2 linked regions of the Homo sapiens genome follow. The protein of the gene in region 1 purifies or fractionates together with the protein of each later gene. This does not show direct contact. Each region holds a gene or a part of one and is shown on either strand. Other genes may lie near its edges.

Region 1 (7,039 bases):
ATGCGCCACCAAGCCCGGCTAATTTTGTGTTTTTAGTAGAGACGGTGTTTCTCCATGTTGGTCAGGCTGGTCTCGAACTCCCGACCTCAGGTGATCCGCCTGCCTCGGCCTCCCAAAGTGCTGGGATTACAGGCGTGAGCCACGGCGCCTGGCGGGGGTGATATTTGGGAGCCCAGTGACGGGGTGGATTTTGGTTGAGGACCGGAATTTGTAGATCGTTTTCATGGGCTCGCTGAACCTTCTCCCAGGCCTTGGGAACCCTTTCCTCCGGAAGAAAGTGTCAGAGGCACATCTGCCCTCTGGCATCCACAGTGCCCTGGGCACCGTGAGCTGTGGTGGAGACGGCAGGGGCGAGCGCGGCCTCCCGACACCGCGGACAGAAGCAGGTATTTGCGAGTCCACCGACCTCCTAGACCCCAGAACTCCGTCCCCACTAAAACCCAGGAGTCTGGTGCCTCAATCCATCTGTCCAAAATACTCAGGAGCTCAGGACCGCACCCACTCCTTCCTCACACCAAGGAGTTCAGGTCCTGAGCCGCCTCCTCCTGCAGCATCCAGAAATCCAACTCTCCCCTCCTTCCTTCCTCAGTGTTCAGGAATCTCGGTCTCCAGTCCCCTTTCTTATCCTGGCTCCCAGACAATTCCGATGCAGAATTGGAGGAAGTCTCCGTGGAGAATGGTTCCGTCTCTCCCCCACCTTTTAAACAGTCTCCGAGAATCCGACGCAAGGGTTGGCAAGCCCACCAACGACCTGGTAATTTAGGGGACATTGGGGTGAAACCTGGGATCTCCTGGTTCATGCAGCAAATCTTCCCCTTTCTTAGGCAGCAGCTTCACTGAAGTATAATTCACAAACCATACAAGTCACCCATTTAAAGTTCACAATTCCATGGTTTCCAGTACACGGTCGCCCCTCGGTATCTGCAGGTGATGTGTTCCAGGAACCCCACAGATACCAAGATCCGCAGACGCCAAAGTCCCTTATATAAAATGGTGTAAAATTTGCATATAAACTATGAACATCCCCCCATATACTGTAAGTCATCTCTAGATAACTTATAATACCTAATACAGTATAAATGCAATGTAAATATTTGTTGCTGTTGTTGTTGGGAGGGAGTCTCACTCTGTCGCCTAGGCTGGAGTGCAGTGGCGTGATCTTGGCTCACTGCAACCTCCGCCTCCTAGGTTCAAGCTATTCTCCTGCCTCAGCCTCCCAAGTAGCTGGGACTACAGGTGCGCATCACCACGCCCAGCTAATTTTTGTATTTTTAGTAAAGATGGGGTTTCACCATGCTGGCCGGACTGGTCTTAAACTCCTGACCTCATGATCCACCCACCTCAGCCTCCCAAAGTGCTGGGATTACAGGCATAAACCATCATGCCTGGCCCGTAAATAGCTGTTATATGTTATTTAAAAAAATTTTTAAAAATAAAGTGCCTGTAATTCCAGCACTTTGGGAGGCTGAGGCTGGTTGGTCACTTCAGTCCAGGAATTTGAGACGAGCCTGGCCAACGTGACGAAACCATGTCTCTACTAAAAATACAAAAATTAGCCAGGCAAGGGGGTGCAGGCTTGTAATCCCAGATACTCCGGAGGCCAAGGCAAGAGAGTCACTTGAACCCAGGAGGCCGAGGTTGCAGTGAGCCGAGATCATGCCACTGTACTCCAGCCTGGGTGACAGAGCAATACTCTGTCTCAAAGAAAAAAAAAATTGGTTCTGTTATTTATTGTCATCTTGTTGTTTTTCAATTTCTTTCCTGAATATTTTGGGTCAGCAGTGGGGATGTGGAGCCTGTAGGATACGAGAAGCTAACTATATTTATATAATTCTGCAACCGTCACCACAATCAATTTTAGAACATTTGTATCACCCCAGATAGAGATCCTGCATCATGGCTGGGCGCGGTGGCTCACGCCTGTAATCCCAGCACTTTGGGAGGCAAAGGTGGGTGGATCACCTGAGGTCAGGAGTTCAAGACCAGTCTGGCCAACATGGTGAAACCCAGTCTCTACTAAAAATACAAAAATTAGCTGGGCGTGGTGGCATGCACCTGTAATCCTAGCTGCTGGGGAGGCTGAGGTGGAAGAATTGCTTGAACCCAGGAGACAGAGGTTGCAGTAAACTGAGATCAGGCTACTGCATTCCAGCCAGGGTGAAAGAGCGAGACTTTGTCTCAAGGAAAAAAAAAAGAAAGAAAGAAATAGTGCATCAATTAGCAGTCACCCCTTTTCCATTTACCCCAGCCCTTGGCAACCACCAACCTCCACTGTCTTCTTAGATTTGGCTATTCTGTACATTTCACACAAATGGAATCGTATACATATGTGGTCTTTTGTATGTGGCTTCTTTCTTCAATTCCTTTTTTTTTTTTTTTCTTGAGGCAGAGTCTTGCTCTGTCTCCCAGGCTGGAATGCAATGGCGCGATCTCAGCTCACTGCAACCTCTGCCTTCTGGGTTCAAGCGATTCTCCTGCCTCAGCCTCCCGAGTAGCTGGGGTTACAGGCGCGTGCCACCATGCTCGGCTAATTTTTTGTGTTTTTTAGTAGAGACAGGGTTTCACCATGTTGGCACAGCTGGTCTCAAACTCCTGAACTTGTGATCTGCCTGCCTCGGCCTCCCAAAGTGCTGGGATTACAGGCGTGAGCTAATGCACCTGGCCTCTTTTGCTTTGAGATGGTGTGTCACTATGTTGCCTAGGCTGGTCTTGAACTCCTGGGCTCAAGTGATCCTCTCACCTTGGCTTCCCAAAGTGCTGGGATTACGGGTGTGAGCCACCGTGTGTCTTCATTCACCTCATTCACCTAATGATTTTTTTTTTTTTTGAGACGGAGTCTCACTCTGTCACCTAGGCTGTGTGGGGAAAAGAAAGAGAGATCAGATCGTTACTTTGTCTATGTAGAAAAAGGAAGACATAAGAAACTCCATTTTGATCTGTACTAAGAAAAACTGTTCTGCTGGCTGGGCGCGGTGGCTCACGCCTGTAATCCCAGCACTTTGGGAGGCCGAGGCGGGCGGATCACGAGGTCAGGAGATCGAGACCACAGTGAAACCCCACGTTTACTGAAAATACAAAAAATTAGCCGGTTGCGGTGGTGGGCGCCTGTAGTCCCAGCTATTCGGGAGGCTGAGGCAGTAAAACGGCGTGAACCCGGGAGGCAGAGCTTGCAGTGAGCTGAGATCGCGCCACTGCACTCCAGCCTGGGTGACAGAGCAAGACTCCGTCCCCCCCCCAAAAAAAAAAAGAAAAACTGTTCTGCTTTGAGATGCTGTTAATCTGCAACTCTTGTCCCAACCCTGTGCTCACAGAAACATGTGTTATATTGACTCAAGTTTTAAGGGATTTAGGGCTGGGCAGGATGTGCTTTGGTAAAAATGGTTTTGCAGGCAGTATGCTTTGTGAAAGTCATTGCCATTCTCCATTCTCTATTAACCAGAAACATAACACACTGTGGAAGGCTGCAGGGACCCCTGCCCAAGGAAGCCTGGGCATTGTCCAGGATTTCCCCGACTGAGACAGCCTGAGATATGGCCTCGTGGGAAGGGAAAGACCTGACGGTCCCCCAGCCCGACACCCGTAAAGGGTCTGTGCTGAGGAGGATTAGTGAGAGAGAAAGGCCTCCATGCGGTTAAGATAAGAAGGAGGCATCTGTCTCCTGCACGTCTCTGGAAATGGAATGACTCAGTGTAAAACCGACCATACATTCTATTCTGAGATAGGAGAAAACCACCTTATGGCTGGAGGCGAGACATCATGGCGGCAATACTGCTCTTTACTGCACTGGGATGTTTATGTAAAGTTAAACATAAATCCAGCCTATGTGCACATCCAGGCACAGCACCTTTCCTTAAACTTATTTATGACACAGAGTCTTTTGTTCACATGTTTTCCTGCTGACCCTCTCCCCACCATCACCCTATAGTCACACCAAATTCCCCTCACCAAGATAGTAAAGATAGTGATCAATAAATACTGAGGGAACTCAGAGATCAGCGCTGGTGCGGGTCCTCACTTGCGGAGCACTGGTCCCCTGGGCCCACTTTTCTTCCTCTATACTTTGTCTCTGTGTCTTCTTTCTTCTCTCAGCCGCTCGTCTCCACCTTGCGAGAAATACCCACGGGTGTGGAGGGGCAGGCCCCCTTCAGGCTGGAGCGCAGTGGCACGATCTCGGCTCACTGCAACCTCTGCCTGGCTGGGTTTAAGCGATTCTCCTGCCTCAGCCTCCTGAGTAGCTGGAACTGCAGGTGCACGCTGCCACGCCCTGCTAATTTTTGTATTTTTAGTAGAGACCGGTTTCACTATGTTGGCCAGGCTGATTTTGAACTACTGACCTCGTGATCCGCCCACCTCCGCCTCCCAAAGTGCTGGGATTACAGGCATGAGCCACCGCCCCTGGCCCACCTAACAAATTTTTTTTTTTTTTTTGAGACGGAGTCTCGCCCTGTTGCCCAGGCTGGAGTGCAGTGGCACAATCTCGGCTCACTGCAAGCTCCGCCTCCCGGGTTCACACCATTCTCCTGCCTCAGCCTCCCAAGTAGCTGGGACTACAGGCGCCGGCCACCACACCCGGCTAATTTTTTTTTTTTTTTTGTATTTTTAGTAGAGACGGGGTTTCACCATGTTTGCCAGGATGGTCTCGATCTCCTGACCTCGTGATCCGCCCGCCTCGGCCTCCCAAAGTGCTGGGATTACAGGCGTGAGCCACCGTGCCCGGCCATAAAATTTTAAGGTTCATCCGTGTGGTAGTATTATCAGTACTTCATTCCTTTTTATTCCCTTATAATATTCCATTGTGGTGACGTTTCCTTTTATTTTCATGAGATGGCCAATGATTTCAATGACAGAATTATTATCACCCCAAACTCCATCCCCCCATCTTCAGTCTCTGTGATGCTTTGTCTGAGATAAGGAAAAGGAAAGACCCTAACCCCTCCCTGTCCTTAGATCCAGGGTAATCAGAAACTCTGGCCCTTGTAGACTTCCGTGCACCTGGAGGAGGAGGAGGTTGTTGCAAGTGAGGGCGCTGAGTCATGAGTAGGGACTGAGAACCCAGGAGTTCTGGCCATCTCTGGCTAGCACTGATGATGGTGTCCCACACTCCTGGGATCCAGCTGTCCTGAGCTTAGTCCAGGCTTCTTTCATCCTTTAGGTGAAGGGGTGGGTTGCCCCTCCACACCTGTGGGTTCGTTAGGTGGAACGAGAGACTTGGAAAAGAAAAAGACACAGAGACAAAGTATAGAGAAAGAAATAAGGGGACCCAGGGAACCAGCGTTCAGCATATGGAGGATCCCGCCAGCCTCTGAGTTCCCTTAGTATTTATTGATCATTTGTGGGTGTTTCTCCGAGAGGGGGATGTGTCAGGGTCACAAGACAATAGTGGGGAGAGGGTCAGCAGACAAACACGTGAACAAAGGTCTTTGCATCATAGACAAGGTAAAGAATCAAGTGCTGTGCTTTTAGATATGCATACACATAAACATCTCAATGCTTTACAAAGCAGTATTGCTGCCCGCATGTCCCACCTCCAGCCCGAAGGCGGTTTTTCCCTATCTCAGTAGATGGAACGTACAATCGGGTTTTATACCGAGACATTCCATTGCCCAGGGACGGGCAGGAGACAGATGCCTTCCTCTTGTCTCAACTGCAAGAGGCATGCCTTCCTCTTATACTAATCCTCCTCAGCACAGACCCTTTACGGGTGTCGGGCTGGGGGACGGTCAGGTCTTTCCCTTCCCACGAGGCCATATTTCAGACTATCACATGGGGAGAAATCTTGGACAATACCTGGCTTTCCTAGGCAGAGGTCCCTGCGCCCTTCCGCGGTGTTTGTGTCCCTGGGTACTTGAGATTAGGGAGTGGTGATGACTCTTTAGGAGCATGCTGCCTTCAAGCATCTGTTTAACAAAGCACATCTTGCACCGCCCTTAATCCATTTAACCCTGAGTGGACACAGCACATGTTTCAGAGAGCACGGGGTTGGGGGTAAGGTTATAGATTAACAGCATCCCAAGGCAGAAGAATTTGTCTTAGTACAGAACAAAATGGAGTCTCCTATGTCTACTTCTTTCTACACAGACACAGTAACAATCTGATCTCTCTTGCTTTTCCCCACATTAGGGACCCGTGCAGAGGGTGAGAGTGACTCCCAGGATATGGGAGATGCACACAAGTCACCCAATATGGGACCAAACCCTGGAATGGATGGTGACTGTGTATATGAAAACTTGGCCTTCCAAAAGGTAGGAAAATGCACAATCACTCAGGATATTGGAAGAAGAGGGCTAGCCTCGGACCTCTGGTGAGGGTGGGGCTAAAATTCTGCCACCCAATCAGAAGCTCTTTTTCCTGGTGGTGATTAAGCTGGCAGAGACTTGTGTGTGTGCGTGCGTGCGTGCGTGCGTGCATGTGTGTGTGTGTACCATTCATCAAATCAGAGGATTTGACTTGACATGGACATGGCCATTAAAATACAGCTTATGGTATGGTGGCTCACGCCTGTAATCCCAGCACTTTGGGAGGCTGAGGTGGGCAGATCACTTGAGGTCAGGAGTTCGTGACCAGCCTGGCCAACGTGGTGAAACCCTGTCTCTAGTAAAATACAAAAATTAGCCAGGTGTGGTGGCGCACGCCAGTAATCCCAACTACTCAGGAGGCTGAGGCAGGAGAATCACTTGAACCTGGGAGGCGGAGGTTGCAGTGAGCTGAGATTGCACTCCAGCCCGGGAGACAGAGTGAGACTGTCCAAAAAAAAAAAAAAATAGGTGCAGCCATGGAAAGACAGCGAGCTTCAGAAAGGGCAGAACACTGATCGAAAAGGGCCAGTTGCAGGCCAGGAACGGTGACTCACGCCTGTAATCCCAGCACTTTGGAAGGCCGAGGCAGGCAGATCACCTGAGGTCAGGAGTTCCAGACCAGCTTGGCCAACTTGGTGAAGCCCCGTCTCTACTAAAAATACAAAAATTAGCTGGGCGTGGTGGCGAAAGCCTGTAATCCTAGCTACTTGGGAGGCTGAGGCAGGAGAATTGCTTGAACCTGG
Region 2 (7,039 bases), on another chromosome or scaffold:
ATTCTTGGAGGGGCAAAAAAATCTTAGCTATTATAATGGTTTGTGGCCCTCCAAAACTCAGTCGTATCTAACAAAATCTTAGTCCTTAGTATTTAATTTTTCTCAGCAAGGAGTAATCAAATTAAATTAATGTAATCAATTAAATTAAAGTTAATTTTTATTTTTAGAAGGTAGTGATTCTAAAAAGTTGAGAACACTTTGCTATAGGAATTGGTGTGTTTTTCTTAGAAAATCTGAAGCTCTATCACAAGAGTAATAGCAAATGTAACTAAAATGTAAATATATGTTCCTGTGGTCTTTTTTCTCTGCCTGGTACATAATTCTAAATATAAACTCATCATTAATCTTTTAAAGTTCATTCCTCACTTTATTCATACTTCCTAAACAATAATAGCTAACATTTTTCAAGTGTTATTATCTGCCAGATACTGTTCTAGGGGATTAGCTTATTTATCTTTCACAACTACCCTTTTGCAATTTATTAATACTTTCTTGTATCCATTTTAGAGATCCAGAAACTGAGGCAAACAGAGGCTCCTCTGTATATAAGGTTACACAGCTGGTACATGACAGAGCTGGGCAGTAGGGCTCTGCCTCTGAACTCTTCACCTGGTTAACTCATCAGCTTTCAAAGTGAGGTTAAAGAGTAATCACCCCTCTCCATTATCAATCCATTACCTCAAATCCTTTCCAAGTCTAGCAGCACATGACAAGTGCCCACAGTTAAATGCAAAAGAGTTGAGATGATATATTTCCCCTCAGTCATCGCAGCCATATTCCTATTTCAGTGAGTACTAATCCAAGTTTTGAAAACTTCTCAGGGTGTCCCAATTATCTTAAATAATACTGTAAAATTACCTAAATTTTTCTTATAACAAAGTTAATTTAGTTCACTTAAAATTTAAAAATGAAAATTTGCTATAGAATGATTTGTAAAAGGAAAGTTGTAAAATTAATAACAAACGCTCCCAAAACAAGCTCTTTTACATAGTTGTAGAAATGCCAGTTTTAGGTGAAATAATATTAATGATTACAATAGCTAATTATGTGTCTTTACTATTGATCAGGCACTGTGCTAAAAGACCTCATTCTCATTTTTAAATCCTTACAAATATCCCGTGGGTTAGATATTATTCTTCCTACTTTAAAGAAATAGGATCTAGGGTTCAGAAAGGTTAAATAACATGTCCAAGCTTACACAGAGCTGGAATTTGAACCCAGACATGTCTGACTGTGAAGTCTATGCCCCTCATTGCTAGTCTATATTGCCAGGTTTCCCTTCTTCCCTGCCCTTGAACTAACCAGGCCCTTCATCCTGCTCTAGGCCCTCTCCTGCAATGCTCACCTCTGGGAAACCAGTGATGGTACACTAGTCCTTAGCTCACCTTTTAATACACAACAGAATTTCACACAATAAGGATAAATGTGCCTCGGTTTTCCCATCTGGAAAATAGAGAAAAAACCAATCCTATCTCATAGGATTGTTGGGAGGGTTAAATGAATTAATACATGATAAGTGCTTAGAAAAATGCCTGGCCCACATGAGCACTCAATATATGGTGATATTTTTCCTTGTATATGTTTTTGTAATTTACACAATCTGTTCTCTTTGGACACATTTAGATTTCAATTAGTAATGTTATAATACCATGCATTTTATACCTCCACAAAATGCAGAATAAACATTTTTGAATTATAATTTTAATGATTAACATTATAATTAATGAGTACTCAGGGGTTCTTAAACTGACATGTTTGAATTTTAGGAGGGGGAAGGCATATAGTGTCTGTGCTGAGAAATTTTAATTATATAGAAGGGGTGATCCTCCTTTGATATTCTTATGTTCTTTCCTTTTTTTTTTTTTTGAGACGGAGTCTCGCTCTGTCACCCAGGCTGGAGTGCAGTGGTACAATCTTGGCTCACTGCAATCTCTGCCTCCTAGGTTCAAGCAATTCTCCTGCTGGGGCAGGAGATTACAGTAGCTGGGATTACAGGCTCACTGCAACCTCCACCTCCCAGGTTCAAGCAGTTCTCCTGTCTCAGCCTCCTGAGTAGCTGGGATTACAGGCACATGCCACCACGTCCGGCTAATTTTTGTATTTTTAGCTGAGATGAGGTTTCATCATATTGGTCAGGCTGGTCTAGGACTTCTGACCTCAGGCGATCCATCCACCTTGGCCTCCCAAAGTGCTGGAATTAGAGGCGTGAGCGGCTGCACCCGGCCCCATTTTTTTTTCCCCCATTTCCCCACTGGATACCTCTTACACAATTTCCATTCTTACTTGCTGCCATACCTCCAGGGCAGCAATAGGACAGCTGGATGCAAGGTACAAGTCCTGAGCCAGGTTATAATCGTTGGTAAACATGGCAAGGTGTCCTGCCAAAAGATTGTAGTCCTCTATTCCCTACAAATAAAAGCAATTCTGATGAGAAAAAAAATGCAAGAGTTTAACTTTTTTTTTTTTTTAAGGACTTTGATCAGTAGGAAGTGGTAACGTTCTATCGATTCACTTGTTTAAGAGGTAAGATTAAATGCAAAAAATTTAGACTGCATTTAACTTAAAATAGCATTTAAATTTTAACTTGATAATTCTATAACATGCTGTTTACCTTTATTTGTTCCAAGGACATCACTATGCCAACATTTCCAATTCTCCGATAAACACGGATTGCAAACTCCACTTCCATGTGATGTAGACAAGCTCTGGCCAACTCATTCCAGGCAGCCTCATCATTCAGAATCCTGCACATTTCCCAAGCATCAGAAAACCTGGGATGTAAGAACATAAGCTTAATCAGAATGTTCCACTTGCCACATGTTAGGCAATTTTCAGACTACATGTCATCTAATAGCGTGCCCCAGATAAACTGTCTAAAACATTTCTTAACCTGTAATTGTCATTTACAAGTAATGAAAAAACACTTAAGCTTTCTTCCTTTTTTTACAGATAAATGTTTTTCCCTAAATTTCTTTTATTAATCTGAATCTACTCTGTAATAAGCCTACTCAATTAACTAAGCTAATCCTATTCATTTATTTCTTTTTATTTCACACATAGATGAATATTATTTTTGTTCTCATATAAGTCTAATAAAATTAGTATTCTATTCCTATAAATTTAGAAGTTTAAAACAGGGGTCAGCAAACTATGGCTTATGGGCCAAATCTAGTCAGGTGCTGTTTTGAAAATACAGCTTGAGTGGAACAAAGTCACTGATCAGCCCACTCTTTTTTTTTTTTTTTTTTTTTTGAAGACGGAGTCTCACTCTGTTGCCCAGGGTGGGTGGAGTGCAATGGCGTGATCTCACCTAACTGCAACCTCGGCCTCCTGGGTTCAAGTTATTCTCCTGCTTCAGCCTCCCGAATAGCTGGGACTACAGGCGCATGCCATGACACCCGGCTAATTTTTTGTATTTTTAGTAGAGACAGGGTTTCATCGTGTTAGCCAGGATGGTCTTGATCTGCTGACCTCATGATCCGCCCGCCTCGGCCTCCCAGAGTGCTGGGATTACAGGTGTGAGCCACCGTCCCCGGCCCAGCCCACTCTTTAATGGATTGTCTGTGGCCACTTTCCTGCTACAACAGCCAGACTGAGTAGCTGCGATAGAGACCCTATGGCCCGTAAAGCTTGAAATATTTGCCATTTGGACCTTAACACAAAAGGTTTTCCGACCTCTGGTTTAAAACATGAACATAAATGCCAATTAAACTTTTTGTGGAACCTCTACATGAGTGAATATATTACATCCATCTATCTATTCATTCATCCATTTATCTATTCACCTATCCATTTTTTCATCCAACACACATTTACTGAACTCGTTACATGCTTGGAAACATGATACAAAAATCAACCACAGTTGCTGTCCTTAAGGCAGTCACAATTGGGGAAGGTGGAAGAGACAGATAAGGAAACAAATGACTATAGCATAGTTTGACAGAGGTAACTGAGTACTTACAATAGGTAACTCTTTGTGCTAAGTCTTTTGCATAAATTCTCTTACCCTAATAACCCTACCCACTAAGTATTATTATTATGTCTCCTTTATAGATTAGGAAAATGAGGCTTAGAGACGTCAAAAGACTAGCCCAAGGCACACAGAGGTAAGTGGTGTCATGCTCTTCACCACTGTGTATACTGCATCCTGGCTCTGAGGCAACACATCAGAAAGACCCCAAGCAGGACTGCCTGTGGTGGTGGGGAAGTCGGGGAAGGCTTCCTGGAGCAGGAGATGGCTCCACTTATCGCTGATGGGTAAAGAAAGAGGGGTTACTACATTCAGAGCAGGGAAAGGGCATTCCAGGAAGAATCATGAAATATATGCAATTTCAGCAGCCAGTGGAACAGAGAGGGACTTGAGTGGAGACAGTTGAGCTGGTGTTAAATCATGAAGTGCCTAGTAGGTCATAGAGGTCCCCCAGGAATGGATTTGTTTGTAAAGGCAATAGAAAGTCACTGAAGGATCCTGAGCAGGGAAATAAGAGGATCAAATCACATCTTCAAAAGTGTGTGGAGAACAGATGAGATCGTTACAAGGCTATTGGCAGACAGAGCAGTTAGGAAGTGGTTAGTTACATTACACATTATTCCAGGTGAGGGCCTGGGTAAAGATGAGGGAACACGGGAGGAGGAAAGGAGCTGGTGTATATGTGTGTTAAGGCATGTGCATGTGTGATTACAGTGAGGGAAAATAGGGGCCTGTGGAAATTGATGAGTTCAGTTTTAGAAAGGGCAAGTTTGAAGAGCTCATGGACTTCCAAGGACACATGACTGGAAGGTAGTTGTAAGTACAGGTTTAAGATAAAGACACAGATTTTAGAGTCAGCTTCATATGGGTGGTATGTTGAGCCATGTTAAGCAGAGGAGATTCACTCAGGAAGAATAATTAGAGTAAGAAGAGAAGGAAACTCATGAGACCCCAATAAACAGCAGCATTTAAGAGAGGCTCGGAAGAATTAGAACGTCAAAGGAATTCACGGTGGCTCTAGGAGATAAGAGAAAAAAACAGTAAAAGGAAATTATAAGCAAAGCAAAATCAAACCTCACTATGATGAAGTCAAGATATTGTTGAAATAATTAGGTTTATTTTATTAGGATTTCCCAATAACTAGGCTCTCTGGAAGCTTAGAAACCGTTTTGTTCTTAAGGGCTTTTCTTGTAATAAAGTACTCATAATAAAAACAGCTGACTATCTTATCTGAGCCTCACAATATCCCTGTGAAATGAACAAGGTAAGTGCTGTTATCTCCATCTATTGAATAGGATTTGACATTTTATCAAAAAGACACCTGCACTCATATGTTTACTGCAGCACTATTCACAATAGCAAAGTCATGGAATCAACTTAAGTGTCCATCAACAGATGACTGGATTTTAAAAAGTGGTGTGTATATATAGATATACACACTATGGAATACTACTCAGCCATTAAAAAAATGAAATCATGTCTTTTGCAGCAATATGGATGGAATTCGAGGTCATTATCCTAAGTGAAATGCCCCAAAGTCAAAAACTGCATGTTCTCACTTAGAAGTGGGAGGTAAACAATGGGTACACATGGACATACAGGTGGAATAATAGATACTGGCAACTCCAAAAGGCGGGATGGTGAGACAGGGTTGAGGGATAAAATACTACCCACTGGGTACAGTGTTCACTATTCTGGTGATGGGTACATTAAAAGCCCAGACTTCACCATATGCACTATATCCATGTAGCACAACTGCACTTGTACTTCTACATTTACAAAAAAAAAAAAAATTCTTGCAAGGATAAAGAATAAAGCAATAAAATAAGATAGAATAATTATAGGATTTGACCTTTAAAATCACAAAAGCAAATGAGAAGTTCCAAAAGAAGTGTGTGAAAGCCTACCTCTTTAGCATTAAATTCTGTGCCAGCATTGGTCTCAGTTCGTCAGGCCCCGTATCTTTTAAGTTGCTGAGAAAGCCATGGGTGCTAAGGTAGATGTTGTTTACTTTTCCACTCTGTGTTTGGCAGGTCAGCTCTCCATTATATAGCAGCAAAGGTTTATGAGCAAAAGGAACTTTGGTGCTACCAGCCAAAATAACCTTGGCTCCTACATTATAAAACAGACATCGCAATGCTGAAAGCTAATACTCAGCACAAACATCAGAAAGAATGTTTTAATTTTACTGCAATGGGAAATTCATCTGTCAGCGAATATACACAAAAGGGGTTTAGTACCTTGTATAGTGTCCTTGTGAAAGACATAAGTGTACACCTTATCATCATCATAAGCAATAAATACACCTTTATCCATTGGCCAGTTTTCCCAAAGAACACCTTTAATGGTTGGTGAAAAATCTGGAATCTCATAGGTAGCGTCATTGACCTACAAAATAAAATTTACAGATTTGCCCCAAGTCTGTACTTGAATCATTATCATTTGCCGTGGTAGAAGCCTGTTTGCAGCCTTAGCTGGCTTAGCTTACTGAGTCATATTCAACCTAACATCACTCCAACAACAACAGGAAAGAAAGTTTCTTTTTCCATTCCTATCCTAGGTCTGGCTTGAAAAAACTATAGTTATTTGGAAAAGCCAAGGTTTGATCTAAAATCTGGCAAATTTGTAGGAGAACCCACAAGTCTAGACACAAAGCTTCAGGTTAAGGAAAAAAAATTAAAGCTGCTCAGGATGACAGAAATTTAAACTACGAACACACTTGTACTTGTGTTTAGAAATTTTTCAATAATACTGAGTATTTGATAATAGTGGGTATTAAGAAACAAATTAACTCACATGATTGAAGTAAATTACACTAGGGATACTTTATTTCAAAAGCTTCTCTAAAATGCATGTCAACAAATATAAATATACAATCATCCCTCAACATCCATGAGGGATTGGTTCCAGGATCTCCCACGGATAGCAAAACCCACAGATGGCCAAATCCCTGAATAAAATGGTGTAATATGTGTATAAACTATGTACACCCTCCCTTATACTTTAAATCATCTCTAGATTACTTATAATACCTAATACAATATAAATGCTATGTAAATAGTTGTCATA

Evidence for each region.
Region 2: the proteins of TULP2 (region 1) and WDR19 purify together in Homo sapiens (co-immunoprecipitation; 3 studies listed by BioGRID and IntAct, with this or other methods). This does not show direct contact.

What each region holds. Positions count from the first base shown.
Region 1 is NC_000019.10:48,888,713-48,895,751, reverse strand, and holds part of TULP2 (tubby-related protein 2), read left to right. Parts: intron 1-248; coding exon 249-386; intron 387-589; coding exon 590-754; intron 755-6,120; coding exon 6,121-6,242; intron 6,243-7,039.
Region 2 is NC_000004.12:39,227,529-39,234,567, reverse strand, and holds part of WDR19 (WD repeat-containing protein 19), read right to left. Parts: intron 6,359-7,039; coding exon 6,211-6,358; intron 6,083-6,210; coding exon 5,878-6,082; intron 2,772-5,877; coding exon 2,612-2,771; intron 2,407-2,611; coding exon 2,296-2,406; coding exon of another isoform or gene 2,263-2,295; exon of another isoform or gene 2,260-2,262; intron 1-2,259. UniProt on the Homo sapiens protein: As component of the IFT complex A (IFT-A), a complex required for retrograde ciliary transport and entry into cilia of G protein-coupled receptors (GPCRs), it is involved in cilia function and/or assembly.